2 separate regions of the Homo sapiens genome follow, and region 2 is linked to region 1. A link means that fine-mapping ties the variant in region 1 to the expression of a gene that starts in the linked region. Tissue or cell type: cerebellar hemisphere. Region 1 holds a variant in brackets; the other region holds the start of a gene. All regions are shown on one strand. Distances are from middle to middle. Region 1 holds the start of LOC124903091 (U6 spliceosomal RNA). Region 2 holds the start of SINHCAF (SIN3-HDAC complex associated factor).

Region 1 (8,330 bases):
CATCTGTCTCTTAGGAGTTTGGTTACTGTTAGCTCTGTGAGCCTGAGTGATCACCTCAACTATCCTAGCAAAATAGGAGAGTTGGGGCCCTCCAAAGCTGAGAATTTGGGCATTATGACCTAAATAAAGCAACACAATACTGTCTGAGCAACTAGTCAAACCCAACCAGCCTCCTTCTCTGACAACTTTATTTTGCTTTCTTTAAGTGCCATACCAATTATTATAAGTGATGACTAGTATTTATCATTTTAAATGGCAAACAACCCTAAATGGCTTGGTGGAGGGCAAGTTCAGACATTGTCCTGGAGACTGGCTGAGAGTAGAAGCCCCTCTGCAGTGTTCTTTGAAGTGCTGATTTTAGTTATATAAAATGCTAAATTGCCTCTCCCACTGTCAGAATAGCCTTTTATTTATTTATTTATTTATTTATTTATTTTTGAGACGGAGACTCGCTCTGTCCCCCAGGCTGGAGTGCAGTGGCACCATCTTGGCTCACAGCAAGCTCCGCTTCCCAAGTTCACACCATTCTCCTGCCTCAGCCTCCCAAGTAGCTGGGACTACAGGCGCCCGTCACCACGCCTGGCTAATTTTTTTTTTTTTTTTTGTATTTTTAGTAGAGACAGGGTTTCACCATGTTAGCCAGGATGGTCTTGATCTCCTGACCTCGTGATCCGCCCGCCTCAGCCTCCCAAAGTGCTGGGATTACAGGCGTGAGCCACTGTGCCCAGCCCAAAATAGCCTTTTATACCTCTTCCTGTTTATGTTATCAAGAAGTTAGTATGTAGACTTCAGAACTCAATTTTGATCTGCTCTTGATTAAACCTTGGTTTACAGAACTACGGTAGTTTTTCACATTGTAGAGAAAAAGTTGAACTATTTTAATAATGGATTTTCTGTGTGTATAGAAACTCCTACAATTGATTTAAATTTTTTTTTTTTTTGAGACAGATTCTTGCTTTGTCGCCCAGGCTGGAGTGATCTCGGCTCACTGCAACCTCCACCTCCTGGATTCAAGCAATTCTCCTGCCTCAGCCTCCCAAGTAGCTGGAATTACAGGCACCCGCCACCACACTAATTTTTGTAGTTTTTAGTAGAGATGGGGTTTCACCATGTTGCCCAAGGCTGGTGTCCAACTCCTGACCTCAAGTGATCTACCCTCCTCGGCCTCCCAAAGTGCTGGGATTACAGGCGTGAGCCACCACGCCCAACCTTGAGTTAAATTTCTAAAAATCTCAACATAATGTGTTTGGCTCCTCTTCTTATTATGCTTAGAGTTAGGCACTAGCACATACTAGACCTAAACTTGACTGATTTGAAAAGACCACTGAAATCCATGATTTGCTGCGGATCCTCTGTGTCTGCTGTGGCCAATATAAAGAAACTTGGATGCACTTAATTTATGAAGACAAGCTTTGTTGATCTGGAAGTTGAATGATAAATGTGAATCCAATGACGCCATACCCCTGCGGATAATGGCAGGCTGGATGTAGCATGTTAGCCGTCATATTCTGTGTGCTCCCTGCGATGTGGGCACTTCCCTTCCATCGTGGTGAGGCCAAAGCAAAGGCACAGAGACCTGAACACAAACATGAAAAACACCTTACCACCTGGGAGTCAGGGGCAGGTTCAGGCACATCCATTCCTCTGGCATTTGAGCAGCTGTTTTCCACAGCATTAACTCAGCACGGCAGGGTAAGTCAGATTAAAAACCAATAAAAGAGTAGTATCCTCATACCACCCTCAACGTCTTCCTGCTTCACCAAAAAACCAATAAAAGACTGAATGTGGCCCTTTATCAGCTAGACCTCAAAATCTTCTTTGCTTTCTATGCGTATTTCCAATAAAAAAGTACAAGGGTTGTTAAAAGTCCTTATTTATTTATTTATTTATTTATTTATTTATTTATTTATTTTTAGAACCAGGGTCTCACTCTGTTGCCCAGGCTGGAGTTCAGTGGTGCAGTCATAGCTCAGTGCAGCCTCCAACTCCTGAGCTCAAGTGATCCTCCCACTTCAGCCTCCAGAGAAGTTGGGACTACAGGTGCATGCTACCACGCCAGGCTAATGCTTTTGGTTTTTTAAGAGTTTTGTTGAGTCAGGGTCTTGCTATGTTGCCCAGGCTGGTCTCAAATTCCTAGCTTCAAGCAGTCCTCCTCCCTCAGCCTCCCAAAGGGTTGGTATTACAGGCATGAACCACTGTGCCTGGCCTTAAAGTCCTTTTGAAACACAAGACAAGAAACATTTGGCCGCGCACAGTGGCTCATGCCTGTAATCCCAGCACTTTGGGAGGCCAAGGCAGGTAGATCATGAGGTCAGGAGTTCAAGACCAGCCTGGCCAAGATGGTGAAACCCCATCTCTACTAAAAATACAAAAAATTAGCTGGGCATGGTGGCACGTGACTGTAATCCCAACTACTCAGAAGGCTGAGGCAGAGAATTGCTTAAAACCCAGGAGGTGGAGGTTGCAGTGAGCCAAGATCTCGCCACTGCACTCCAGCCTGGGCAACAGAGCAAGACTCTGTCTCGAAAAAATTAAAAATAAAAATACAAAAATTAGCTGGGCATAGTGGCACGTGCCTGTCATCCCACCTACTCAGGAGGCTGGGGCAGGCGAATCGCTTGAACCCGGGAGGCGGAGGTTGCGGTGAGCCAAGATCGCGCCATTGCACGCCAGCCTGGGCAACAGAGCGAAACTCAGTCTCAAAAAAAAAAAAAAAGGAAACATTTATTGAACACCTAGTACATTCCATGCACTGTAGTGTGTGTGGTTTTATTTAATTTCATCTCTGCCCAACCCTGGGAAACGGTCTATTAGCAGACGCAGAGGATAAGGCACAGGACGATCAGGTAACACACCCAGGGCCAAATATCATAAATGGCAGAATTCAAATTAAAGCCACCTTCCAAGCCATGTCCCTCCCATCGTCACAATACTGCATGTCTACAGCACAGTTGATGGGCATAACCCTTCTTAGCAACAGCAAGCAGCTGAGCAGAAAGTAATTGCAGGAGGCAGAGCCAAGAGGAAAACTGCTGAGAGTGCTGACGGTAGGTGGAGAGAACAGAAGCACACACCGTAGGGTGCAATCTTAGTGAGCTTTGTTTTCCTTCAATAGAGGTGAGTTCAGACCCAGGCATGTCTCTCCAACATTCATTTCCCCTGCTTCGGCACCATAGACTTGAAGGATTGGACTCAGGAGTTGGGGAGGACACGGGGGAAGTTGCTTTCCTGGTGCTGAGGCCCCCGGCCACCGTGGTAGTGTACAGCAAGTACAGGGTAACAGAAGGGCCAGCAGGAGGACACGGCGCAATGGTGTACCGAGGGACAGGAGAGTGAATCAGAGCCACAGGACAGAGCTCCACCTGT[T/C]TCCAGGGAAGTGCATGGGGGGCTCCCGGAAGCCAAAGGCAGCGCCCAGAGGCAGTGTGAAGAGGCCTTCCTCAGACCTCAGGGTTTCGGCAGGGATAGTGGGTGACCTGTGTGCTGGCTCTCCAGAAACTGAAAGCAGCAAGAGACACTTGGGCTCCTTTTTTAGTTTTTCTGGTTTGTTTTGTTTTGTTTTTTTGCAGGCACTCGGTGGTTAGCTGGAAATAAAGGTGGAGGAACTGGGCAGTTCAAAGGCAGAGACGGCTTCCCCCACCCCCACCTCACCTCCCCTTTCATTCAGAAAAGCCACAAAAGCGTGGCCCCAGGGTGTGTGTGAAAGGAGGGAGGAGTGACTCCACCTAGCTCCTCTGGAGTAAAGAGAGGCTGTGGGCCTGGTGTCGTGCGTGCATGCCTGCATGTGCCTGTGTGTGTGCATGCTTGCCTGGTGCTCAAGGGTCAGGGGAAGCTGGCTGAGAAGACTGAGGAGATGGAGGGAGGTGGAGGGAAGTGTAATAGAAGGAGGTGGAGGAAGGTGGCTGCCATAGAGCTTTGGCTCTGGCTGGCCTGAGTCTCTTCCTGAAGTTGCAGCTGCACTTTGGGGCCAGGCGCTGTTGACACTGTGGGTATAAACATGTGGCCAGCAGCAGAATAGAGACTCAGAGTCTTGAGAAAGAAAGTGGTGACTTCCCACTCCTCCTTCCTTCTTTCCTGTACAGAGTCTGCCATCTGGGGGCAGAGATATGGGCAAGCCCTCATTATAATACTAGCAGTGAAGGGCTGGGCATGACAGGTGGAAACACCACTGACTCTAGAACTCAGAGCATGGAATTTGGTATGGTGGCAGGCAGGGGTCCAGAGGTAGTATTTGTTATCTATTGCTGTGTAACGAATTAGCTTAAGGTATAGCAGTTCAAGAGAAGAAATGTTTATTATCTCACAATTTCTTTGGGTCAGAAATACAGGTGTGGTTTAGCTGAATGCTTTCTGGCTGAAGGTGTTTCAGGACGTTACAGTCATGCCACCAGCTGGGGCTGCCAACTCATCTGAAGGCTCAACACAGGGGGACCGGAGTCCAAGCTCCCTCACATGGTCACCAGCAGGATTCAGTTCCTCGAAGGCTGTCATTTAGAGGCCTCCCTCCGTCCCTCCTTACAGGTCCTTCTCACAGGGCACTTCGTGACATGGCAGCTGACTTTCTGGGGACCATCCAAGTGAGAAAGAGCCCTTAGAAAGAAGTGACAGTCTTTATATAACCTAATCTCAGAAGTGACAACTCATCCCTTCTACAAGGTTCTATTATTCAAAATTGCATCTGTAAATCCAGCTCACTCAAGGGAAAGGGATTACTAGGAGATAGGGGTCACTGGGGGCCATTCTAGAGGCTCCCTGTCACAGCATCCAAGCTGAGACCTACAGAATGACAGGAGTTCACCAGGCAGGGAGGCAGGAGGGAGTTGGGGGACGGCAGGTGCAGTGAACCATGGTTGTAACTCAGTATGGCTGCACAGAGAGCACTGCCTGAGGGTGAGCAGTGCTGTGGAGAGGCCAGCAGGGCCCAGAACTTGTACCATCTTTTAACCCAGGTTTGTAAGGGTGGACTTTATCCTGCAAGCATGAAGATCCTAAAGCTTGAGGCTAACGGTTAAGATTTGGCTTTAGAAAGATTACACTGCTGGCCCAGCTCAGTGGCTCACGCCTGTAATCCCAGCATTTTGGGAGGCTGAGGTGGGCGGATCACCTGAGGTCAGGAGTTCGAGACCAGCCTGGCCAACATGGTGAAACCCTGGTTCTCCTAAAAATACAAAAAAATTAGCTGGGCATGGTGGTGGGTGCTTGTAATCCCAGCTATGCGGGAGGCTGAGGCAGGAGAATCGCCTGAACCCGGGAGGTGGAGGAGGTTGCAGTGAGCCAAGATGGCACCGCTGCACTCCAGCCTGGGTGACAGAGTGAGACTGTATCTGAAAGAAAGGAAAGGGAAAAAAAAGAAAGAAAAAAAAAAGAAAAGAAAAGAAGGAAGGTTATCACTGCTGTGGGGAGAATGGATTGAAGAGAGTAAAAGAGCAGAGGAAGGCCAGCTGGCGGGTGCGGCAGGTGGGGGGATTGAACTGAGGTGCTGGAGAGGCTGAATGGCTGGCAGCAGCGCTGCTGCAGAGCTGGCGTCCCTGGGTGTAGGAACTGACTGCTTATGTCCGTCTTCCTCCTCTGGAACATAAGCTCAATGAGGACAGGGATTCTTGTTTGTAGTCTCTGGTATCCCCAGCGTTTAGGACAGTGGCACTAGATGAATGACTAGGACACCCCAAGGTTTCTGGCTTGAGTAACTGGGTGGAGCTATTCTCTAAGCTGTGAGGCACAGAGGGCAAACATGGACAGAAACTTAATATTTGAGAAATACTGAGTTTGAGGTGCTTTGTAGGCCATCTGAGAATAAATGCCTCGTAGGCAGTTGACATGCGGGGATCTGGAAAGCCTCTTAAAGAAATGGTGAGAGATGGAGACTTGAAAATCCAAGCACCTAGACGCCCGTGATGGGAGTAGTTAACATGGCCCTGGGACCCTTTCCCAGAGTTTCTAGGACACCTTACGCAGCAACAGTGCTTGCTTTGAAAGATAGTAAAGGAAGAAAGTCTTGCCAATTGTCATTCACAAAAGAAAGTCAAAAATATGTTGCCAGAGAGGACAGGAGAAAGCCAGGAATCACGGGAAGCCAGAAGAGAGCTTCGAGTACTATGAGAACAGCACAGTAGGTTAGGTAAGGACTGAAAGGAGGCCGGTGAGTTGAAGCCCACTGTGGGTGGGGAGGAAGGAGAAAAGGAATGTTTTCCAGAAATGCAAAGCATTACTTAATATTTATTTTATTTTATTTTTTTGAGATGGAGTCTGGCTCTGTTGCCCAGGCTGGAGTGCAGTGGCACGATCTCTGCTCACTGCAACCTCTGCCTCCCGGGTTCAAGTGATTCTCCTGCCTCAGCCTCCAGAGTAGCTGGGATTACAGGCGCCCACCAACATGGCTGGCTAATTTTTGTATTTTTAGTAGAGATGGGGTTTCACCGTATTAGCCAGGCTGGTCTCGAACTCCTGACCTTGTGATCCACCTGCCTCAGCCTCCCAAAGTGCTGGGATTACAGGCGTGAGCCACCATACCCGGCCTATTTTATATTATATTTATTTTATTTTATATTTTTTGCTCTGTTGCTCAGGCCGAAGTGCAGTGGTACAATCATGGCTCACTACAGCCTCCACCTCCTGATTCTCAAGCAATCCTCCCACCCCAGCCTCCCAGAGTGCTGAGATTACAGGTGTGAGCCACCACACCTGGCCTCCATTACTTAAAAATGTTTTAAAGGCTGGACACAGTGGCTCACGCCTCTAATCCCAGCACTTTGGGAGGCTGAGGCAGGAGGATCACCTGCAGTCAGGAGTTTGAGAGCAGCCTGGCCAGCATGGTGAAACCCCGTCTCTACTAAAAAATACAAAAATTAGCTGGGCGTGGTGGTGGGTGCCTGTAAACCCAGCTACTTGGGAGGCTGAGTCTGGAGAATTGTTTGAACCTGGGAGGCAGAGGTTGCAATGAGTGGAGATCATGCCATTGCACTCCAGCCTGGGCAACAGAGTGAAACTCCGCCTCAAAAAAAAAAAAAATTAAAACTGTCACTTCCAAACACCATTAAAAAACAAAGTGCCTGATTCGGCCGTACATGTACTAAAATTGGAACACTGGAACGGTAACAGAGAAGATTAGCATGGCTCCTGCACAAAGATGACACGCAAATTCATCAAGCATTCCTTTTTTTTTTTTTTTTGGAGACAGTGTTTCACTCCTATCACCAAGGCTGGACTACAGTGGCGTGATCTCAGCTCACTGCAACCTCCACCTCCCGGGCTCAATGGATTCTTCTGCCTCAGCCTCTGGAGTAGCTGGGACTATAGGCATGCACCACTGTGCCCGGCTAATTTTTGTATTTTTGGTAGAGACGGGGTTTCACTATGTTACCCAGGCTGGTTTCAAACTACTGAGCTCAAGCGATCCACCCGCCTCAGTCTCCTAAAGTGCTGGGATTACAGGCGCGAGCCACTGTGCCCAGCCTCATACTTTTTATATTCATTTTGAAAAAAACCAAACATACAAAATATAGATAAGCATTTAGATCACAAGTTCCCCAAACTGGTCTTTGTAGCAGCAATTTAGGAATCACCTGGGTGGTTTTTAAAAATACATATTCTGCCGGGCACGGTGGCTCACTTTGGGAGGCCGAGGCGGGCGGATCATGAGGTCAGGAGATCGAGACCATCCTGGCCAACACGGTGAAACCCCATCTCTACTAAAAATACAAAAAAATTAGCCGGGCATGGTGGCGGGCGCCTGTAATCCCAGCTACTCGGGAGACTGAGGCAGGAGAATGTCATGAATCCAGGAGGCAGAGCTTGCAGTGAGCGGAGATCGAGCCACTGCACTCCAGCCTGGGCGACAAGTGAGACTCTGTCTCAAAAAAACAAAACAAAACAAAAAAAAACCAGATTCTGGGTTTGCCCCAATTCCATAAAATTAACCTCTCAAGGGTGAAGCAGGAGAAACTATTTTTTAATGTGCCAAGTGACTTTGAAGTGTGACAAGCTTTTTAAACATTTTATTTGGAGTTTTCTGCTTTTATTATTTTTAATTGACACATAATAATTGTATATATTTATGCGGTACCATGTGAGATTTTGATATAGGCATACAATGTGTAATGATCTAATCAGGGTAATTAACATATCCATCACCTCAAAGAGTTTTGACATCACTCATTTAAACCTCTAAGAAATACTTTTCAGCTGGGCGCAGTAGCTCACGCCTGTAACCCCAGCACTTTGGGAGGCCGAGGCGGGTGGATCACCTGAGGTCAGGAGTTCGAAACCAGCCTGACCAACATGGAGAAACCCCATCTCTACTAAAAATACAAAATTAGCCAGGCATGGTGGCACAT
Region 2 (8,330 bases), 36 kb before region 1:
AAATACCAAAGAAGCATCCATGTGTCAAACCAGCATAATTTTTGAGCTATGCCTGGGGCCACATACAAAAAAAGAAAAGGTTAGCTTGAAAAGAAAAATCTAGGAGAGGTAACCAGAAGGTCAACCACAGTTCACGGGATCTGGGAAGAAGCTAGCCGTTACCCTGTGTCATCTTCCTGAGCAGCTTCCTCCCCAGCCAGCTCCCCAGCCTCCTTACAATGTTTCCAAAAGGCCCAACTCCCTAAACATTTGCTTCTTCAAGGTCATCCTAAGGCACTGAATAACCACCAAACACTGAGTCACGCATACCTTTCGCCTAAAAAAGATCCCCCTTCCCAAAATCATTATATAAATACTTTAAATGCCATGAGGGTTTTCTCCGAAACTCCACCAGAAACAAACTCCCAGACTTTTAGATTGGGCAACTAAATGTGTTCAATTTTGCGACATAAAATTTTAAAAGGCTTTTCAAGTCTGGCAAATTCCAGTTCAAAAACAGGTGCTTTCAGCGTACTCTGAATAACAAGGTCAAATTCATTTTTAAATTATTAAAAGAAAAAGAAAAGCTTTTCTTAACCCTCCTTAGGACAACTTAAGAAGGGGGAGAAAGAATTGCTGGGGTAAAACTGTCTCGGATAGGGTCCCTGTTTAACTCAAGAGTAAATCCTAATCTTCCGAGTGCCTGAAGTAATGGAAGGTTACAGGAAGAAAATAAAAACAAAGAAACTGACTAGGGTCATAGTTACCAGAACAAACTGCACCGCCCTACCACCTCAAGAAACCAACTCCCCCTACACCAAAACAAACCTTGCCCTTCCCCGCTCCCCCCACCCCCTAGAAACACACAAAGAAACTGGCCGCACGCACAATTCGCCCACAGTCCTCACTTCCCTTAGTAGGGCAACAGGGAGCCCCGGAACTTCCCCACGGTGGTTTATCGGGCGTCGTCGGGGCTGGGTCCCCTGGACTTGCGGGCCACAGCTCGGCTGGGGAGGAGGTGCTCGCCGCCCTCACCCGTTTCTCTGAAAGCAGTAAAATGCCTCCCCGCTCCTCCCAGGGCCCTCGGGTCCCCACCTTCCGTAAATCGTGCTTCCCCCTCGGGCACTCCGGTGACTGCCGAGAGAGACGCCGAGCCAGCAAGTAAGAATGCTCCCTGGTGGATTTGTTGGTAAATAAGACATCTCGCGTCGGGAGGAAAGTTCCTGCGGGGGCCGCTCGCCGGGGCGAGGGCGAGGGCAGCGGGAGGTGAACCGCGTCGCTCGCCGCCACCTCCCTCACCTGCGCCGGAACAACGGGCCCCGCGCCAGCCCGGCCCGGCGCCTCCCGCAGGCCGCGCCTCCCGCACGCCGCGCTGCCGGGGCTTGTTCCTCCTCATGGCTTTGCCCTGACGTAATTCAAACATGGCAACAGTTCGACTTCAAAGGCGAACCCACAGACCTCCCAGACACAGGCTCCCGGGCCACGAGAAACCGGCCGAGCAGTCCGGGCCAAGCTCCCCGGAACCCTCGGCCGTCGCAACCCCCGACGCCAGGGCTGAAGCGCCGGGCACTGCCGCCTCCCTCGGTCGCCCGCCCGCACGCCCGGAGCGGGGAAGCACGCCGCCTCCCTACGCACCAGCATGGCACCTCGCACAAGTAGCGCCGCCAAAGTTTCCCCACGAGGGGGCTGAGGGACAAAAGCCCCTCCCGAAACTCGCCCGAACTTCGAGGGCCTCCGACCTGCACGGCCCTACGCCCAGGCGGCGGCCCCGAGCGCCGGGGGCCCGCACGGGCACATGCAGCCCTTTGTTTTCTGTCCAGCCGGGCGCTGCCTACGTGCAGCATCAGGGATGTCGGAGCGTTTCGCAGGGGCCGGACACTGGACGATCACCCTGGGTAGGGGTCCGGACCCCGCGCCCCGAAGAGTCCGGAGCCTGGCCCCCCGACCCTCCCCTCGGGAGCAGGCCCATTTAATCAAAGTTTTGCAGTGTCCTTGATGAGAAACGCCCGGAGTATCCGCCCCGCACGGGCGGAGAGTTGGCGACTTTCACTCTGCTTTTTAAACTGGCAAGACGCCATCATCAGCAAACCACATTGTCCTGCCGGCCGGACCTGCCCGACGGCGGCCGCATCCCACGGCTCACGCGGGGCTGGACATTCGGACAAGGACCAGGGTCGCAGCCCGAAGCACGTGGTCTGTCACGTAGAGCACAAAAAGCAGTGCCCTGCGGAGTTCACTGACTCCCGCGGCGTACACAACGCCGCCGCCTCCATCTCCAGCCAAGTTGGCTTCCCTGGCCATCTTACAGCGCGGACGGCCGCCCATAAACGGGAAGCCCTCGCGGTGTCGCCCACACCTACGCTACAGGTGAACGCACCGGGAGCAAAACTTCGGGCTCCGAAAGCACCCCGGACACCAGAGGCTCTTGGGCGCGGTCCGAAGAGGGCAGGCGAGTGGAAGACGGGCTGTTTTTAAGCGACCGCGTGTTGCTCTCATTGTCGCATCCGCATCCCTCCGGAGTTGAGCAAACAACGCCACGCCGCGTGCGCTCCGGCAGAGCCCAGCACTGACCCCCAAAGGCCGATTTAAAGACCCTCGGCCGCCAGCTCGGAAGCGGATGGCAACTTAGTTTCCGAGCGAATGGCGTTTATTGTCCACCCTAGTCCGAGGGCTGCAGTCAACTAAACCACGAGGTTTCACAACGGCGCCCGACCCTGCCCGCGCCTCGCGCCCACGCGGACGCACCGACCCCGGCCGCTGCGCGGTGGCCAACGAGTCGCTTTCCTCTCGGGCCTTTCGGCCGCCGGGCTCCTTTCCGCGAGAGAACACTGCGGCGGAGAAAAGTCATTGTCACCTTCAACGTGGATCCCTCAACTCCGGCGACTCCTCAATTATGCCCAGGCTCCACTCACTTCCCCGCCCCGAGACTTTCGGTTTGCCTCAAATACCCTCCCCAATTAATAAATACACACTAAACACGAGCGTACCAAAGAACCTGGGGTCTGAAGATCACGAAAACAGCGCTCCCAACAATGCCACCTCCAAGACAAAACTTCCTGTGTGTATGTGGAAGGACGGGGGGAGGTGGGTGGAGGTGAAAAGAGAAAAAAAAAAACACTGAAATCAAAGCCTCGTGAGACAGTTTTGCACTAGAAGCATGGTGAGAGTCACTCACCTTCCAAAAGCAGCCGTTCCACGCGCAATAATGTCCCCGAGGTGCGGAGTGCACGCCAGGCCAGTCCCCCTCAAGCGCTCCCTCCTCCTCAACTGCCTTGTCTAGAAAGATAGTCTCCTGCAGTTCTGCAGTTGCTACCGCTGGCCGGGAAGGTGTAGATTCCGCTTTCCCTCTGCGCACGCGCGGCTCCCGGCACAAAATTCTCTTGAATCGAACTTATTTGCATACGGGCGCGCGCACGTTGCGGGCTGGGAGGGGGAGAAGTCCCGGCGACCGCGCGCGCTCCCGAGGCCTCTATTGTCCTTTTAAGGGGAGAAGCTCCGCGGCGCGGGAAACGCGGCGGCCAGAGGGAAACGGGGGCGGGGACTGCTTACTACGGCGGACGTCACATAAACAAACGCCCCCCCCCCCGGCTGCAGGCCGCGGCGGAGAGGGAGAGGCGAGGTGGGAAAGGGAAAGGTTAGCAACTGAGGGGAGGGCTGCGCTGCTTGGCGTGTTTTCCGCCCCCGAAGTTGTTAGGGGCACCATTGAGCGCTGAAAAATTGTTCTGAAAGCTGCTTTTGCAAAATTCTCACACCTGTCCCCACTGTCGGTGACAGAGGAGGTGGTCTTGTAAGCACCCAGACTGAATTTATACTAATCCCACGTTTCCTAAATTTTGTTTGAAGTTAGGTTTTTGAAGCTTGTAAAAAAAAAATCCTCTGGGGCCAGCAAAGGTTTAGTTTTTGTGCAGTTGTAATGAGTCGTTTAATAAAGTCCCATTTTAACACCCTAGCCATTCGCTAACTCCCGCTTGCCCTTCTCAAATAGTAACCCAACCCATAACAATCCAGTTTTTTCCTCCACTTCGGCCTTAAGATTTCAAGTCTCTCCGAATTGAATGATTGTTAATTTCCGTGGGAACAGTGCCGCTTTCTTTAAAAGACTAGGCATTGGAAAGCCAATAACCTAGGGACAGGCATACCTCCTCTAGCAGCTTGTAAAGGGTGTTCCACTCACCCAGAAATAATTCCAGTAACTGGTGGTCTTGGGAATGGAAAAAATAACGAGTGACGTACAGACTTTTCAATGCAGAATATGTAATAATTCAACAATCTAAGCGCTTTCTAGACTCCGGAAGAAAAAAACTGAAGTAACTCTTCTCAGATTGATAAGAGGAAAATGAAAACCGAATGATTGATTCGCCTTTGTCCCAAGGACACACTTAACACCAACAGGCAGAAACCCGGGGTTAATGATAGAGGGTGGGGAGAGAGGAAGGATGTTTTTCCCAGAAACTTGATATTGGTCCCAAGTTACAAAAGTGTGAAAATCAACCATAAAACTTAATCATCTGCTGACACGTTTCGCTGCTTTCACTGCAGTGTCAACAATACAGATTTAAATAGTTACTTCTGAAATGTTAATTTAATTCAACAGGCAATTCCTAGTACATACAGTATAAACCCACTTCTGAACTCCTCAACTAATACTTCTTTATTTTTCTTTAGGTTCTGTAACATACTATTCCTGTAACTGTATATGAAAACTATATTATAAATACCTGAAAAGATAGCCTGGCGTGGTGGTGGGCACCTGTAATCCCAGCTATTCGGGAGCCTGAGGCAGGAGAATCGCTTGAACCTGGGAGGCGGAGGTTGCAGTGAGCAGAGATTGCGCCACTGCACCCCAGCCTGGGCGACAGAGCAAGACTGTCTCAAAACAAAAACAAAAACAAAAACAAAAAACAGAAAGAAAAAGGACACCTCTCATTAAAATATGAGCTCCTTAAAGACAAGGATTTTATGCCTTTCTTACCCATCTTTGTATTCCAGTGCCTGACACAGTGCACATCAGATAATATATACTGACATCTTGCATGCATTAGTTGGCTAGGAAAATTTTTTTTTAATGTAATAAACGGCTGGGCACAGCGCCTCACACCTGTAATCCTAGCACTTTGGGAGGCCAAGGCAGGCAGATCACATGAGGTCAGGAGTTCGAGACCAGCCTGGCCAACATGGTGAAAACCTGCCTCTGCTAAAAATATAAAAATTAGCCGGGCATGGTGGCTCACCCCTGTAATCCCAGCACTTTGGGAAGCCAAGGCAAGTGGATCACCTGAGGTCAGGAGTTCAAGACCAGCCTGGCCAACATAGTGAAACCCTGTCTCTACTAAAAATACAAAAATTAGTGGGGCATGGTGGCACTCACCTGTAATCCCTGCAACTCGAGAGGCTGAGATGTGGTGGCACATGCCTGTAATCCTAGCTACTCAGGAGGCTGAGGCAGGAGAATTGCCTGAACCCGAGAGGCGGAGGTTGCAGTGAGCCAAGATCACGCCACTGCACTCCAGCCTGGACAATAGAGCAAGACTCTGTCTCAAAAAAAAAAAAAAAATATATATATATATATATAATAAATATATAAATTAGCTGGGCATTTTCGCACAGACCTGTAATTCCAGCTACTTGGGAGGCTAAGGCACAAGAATCACTTCAATCTGGGAGGCTGAGGTTGCAGTGAGCCGAAATCGCACTACTGCACTCCAGCCTGGGTGACGGAGTGAAACTCTTGTCTCAAAAAATAATAATAATGGCCAGGCGAAGTGCCTCACGCCTGTAATCACAGCACTTTGGGAGGCCAATGTGGGTGAATTACCTGAGGTAGGGAGTTTGAGAGCAGCCTGACCAACATGGAGAAACCCCGTCTCTACCAAAAATGCAAAATTAGCCGGGCGTGGTGGCACATGCCTATAATCCTAGCTACTTGGGAGGCTGAGGCAGGAGAATCCCTTGAATCCAGGAGACAGAGGTTGTGGTGAGCCGAGAGATCAAGCCATTGCACTCCAGCCTGGGCAACAAGAGCTAAACTCTGTCTCAAAATAATAATAATAATAATAAATATATAAATATAATTTTAAAAAATTAATGGACATTTTCAAGGTTCTTACAGGTTTATCGCTAATCAGAACTTTAGTTTACAATTTTTGCATTTGACCTAAAATGAGTTTGGAAGTTATAGTGGTCACATTGGTTGATATGCCAGCCCTGTCCTTATGACAATAAAAATGAATAAGCTTAATAGCTGTTTCTGTGTTCCACTGGTGGCAAATTGGACCCTAATCATAAATTTCTGCCTTCTTTCTAAAGAGAATTTTAACAATTGTCCTGGGTTGTCTCAAATATTTATTTGGCTTATGACAGATCTTCCAAAAATAATTTCAAATTATTATATGCCTCTGAAGGTATGAAAACTGCAAATACTGGCCAGGCGCGGTGGCTTATGCCTGTAATCCCAGCACTTTGGGAGGATGAAGCGGGTGGATCACAAGGTCAGGAGTTTGAGACCAGTCTGGACAGCATGGTGAAACCCCGTCTCTACTAAAAATACAAAAAATTAGCCGGGCATGGTGGTGCACGCCTGTAGTCCTAGCTACTTGGGAGGCTGAGGCAGGAGAATCGATTGAACCCAGGAGGCAGAGGTTGCAGTGAGCTGAAATCACACCACTGCACTCCAACCTGGGTGACAGAGCGAGACTCCATCTCAAAAAAAAAAGAAAAGAAAAGAAAGAAAATTGTAAATACCATAATAATATTTTTTAAACTCCAATTATGGTTTACAGGAGTATATATATACATATATGTAAGTGTGTACACACACACACACGTACCTTGAATGCTTTTTCTCTTGAAAGTTTATGTAAAGAATATTTATTGTGGCCGGACGCGGTGGCTCCTGCCTGTAATCCCAGCATTTTGGGAGGTCGAGGTGGGTGGATCACAAGGTCAGGAGTTTGAGACCAGCCTGGCCAATATGGTGAAACCTCGTCTCTACTAAAAATACAAAAAAATTAGCCGGGCATGGTGGCACGTGCCTGTAATCCCAGCTACTTGGGAGGCTGAGGCAGGAGAATTGCTTGAATCCGGGAGGCAGAGGTTGCAGTGAGCCGAGATCACGCCACTGCACTCCAGCCTGGGTAACAGGGCAAGATTCCATCTCAAAAAAAAAAAAAATTTTATTGTAATACAGGGATGGAATAATAAACGCAAATGTGCAAGCAATGCAGGAATTACAGTACTTAGGATACACCGTTCAGGTAAAAAAGTACCTAGAAGTTGCAGAGCTACTGAGTTAATGTAGCCAGACTTCCTCTGCTCTCAAAGTATAGGTCAAGAAGTAATCTGGGTAAGTTTTTTAGGAAGGGTAGCTACAAAATTCTTTTTTAAAATTTTTTATTACTTTTTAATTTTTCTTTGATAATCCTATTGCAATAAACAAAATTCTCAAAGAAAAATCGGAATTCCATAGTCTTTTTTTTTAAAGCAACCACCTGCTATTTTTGAACAACCAAGTGCATTCCGAAGGTTCTTTTGTCCAGTTTGTTGCTTGAACATGTCATTATGGATGGCCCTACCCAGGCCCAATAGCTCATGTATGGGTTACTTTTAACTACTACTACCTAAATTGCCCAAGTGAATTTTTCAACGTGAAAAAGGAAAGAAGGAAATACAAGAAGTAATTTATAATATATCAATTTGTATTACAAGAGATTGAATTACATCATGCTAGGAAAATATCTGCGGATTTTGTTTTGTTTTGTTTTTGTTTGTTTTTTTTGAGAAGGAGTTTTGCTCTTGTTGCCCAGGCTAGAGTGCAATGGCACGATCTTGGCTCACCACAACCTCCACCTCCCGGGTTCAAGCGATTCTCCTGCCTCAGCCTTCCGAGTAGCTGGGATTACAGGCATGAGCCTGCATGCCCGGCTAATTTTGTATTTTTAGTAGAGATGGGGTTTCTCCATAGTTGGTTAGGCTGGTCTCAAACTCCCGACCTCAGGTAATTCACCCACCTTGGCCTCCCAAAGTGCTAGGATTACAGGCGTGAGCCACCACACCCTGCCCTGAGTATTTTTTAATGACTACAATGCTATGTTGAACTCATAAGTAGTTTTCAAACATTTTGAAGTTGAAAGCTAACTACTTTCTTATAATGTATGTCTCGCTGTAGAATTATCCCTAACGCTTGAATTTTTATTCCTTTAGCAAACATTTAATGATCATCACTATGTGCCAGATAGTGAAATCATTTCAGAACTTGAGGGGCTCAAGCCTCTCTAATTCATTTCTATATAATTCTATTTTATTTGCTCCTTTTTCTTCCGTAGAATGTGTTGCCTTCTTTTGAGATTTATTGT

Evidence for each region.
Region 2: it holds the start of SINHCAF, and the variant in region 1 is fine-mapped to the expression of SINHCAF in cerebellar hemisphere (GTEx, PIP above 0.99). The same link has a PIP of 0.9 or more in cerebellum.

The regions. Positions count from the first base shown.
Region 1 is chr12:31,359,209-31,367,538 of GRCh38, forward strand. LINC02387 (long intergenic non-protein coding RNA 2387) reads right to left here. Exons shown (of 2, transcript NR_146469.1): 2 at 4,273-4,587. It overlaps LOC124903091 (U6 spliceosomal RNA), which reads left to right and starts at 7,056; the gene lies at 7,056-7,158. RefSeq lists an enhancer at 5,311-5,810. The variant T/C (reference allele first, on the strand shown) is at 3,367.
Region 2 is chr12:31,322,870-31,331,199 of GRCh38, forward strand. It overlaps SINHCAF (SIN3-HDAC complex associated factor), which reads right to left and starts at 3,281. Exons shown (of 6, transcript NM_001135812.2): 1 at 3,155-3,281. FLJ13224 (a long non-coding RNA gene) reads left to right here and starts at 1,447. Exons shown (of 1, transcript NR_026806.1): 1 at 1,447-3,076. RefSeq lists an enhancer at 2,370-3,301.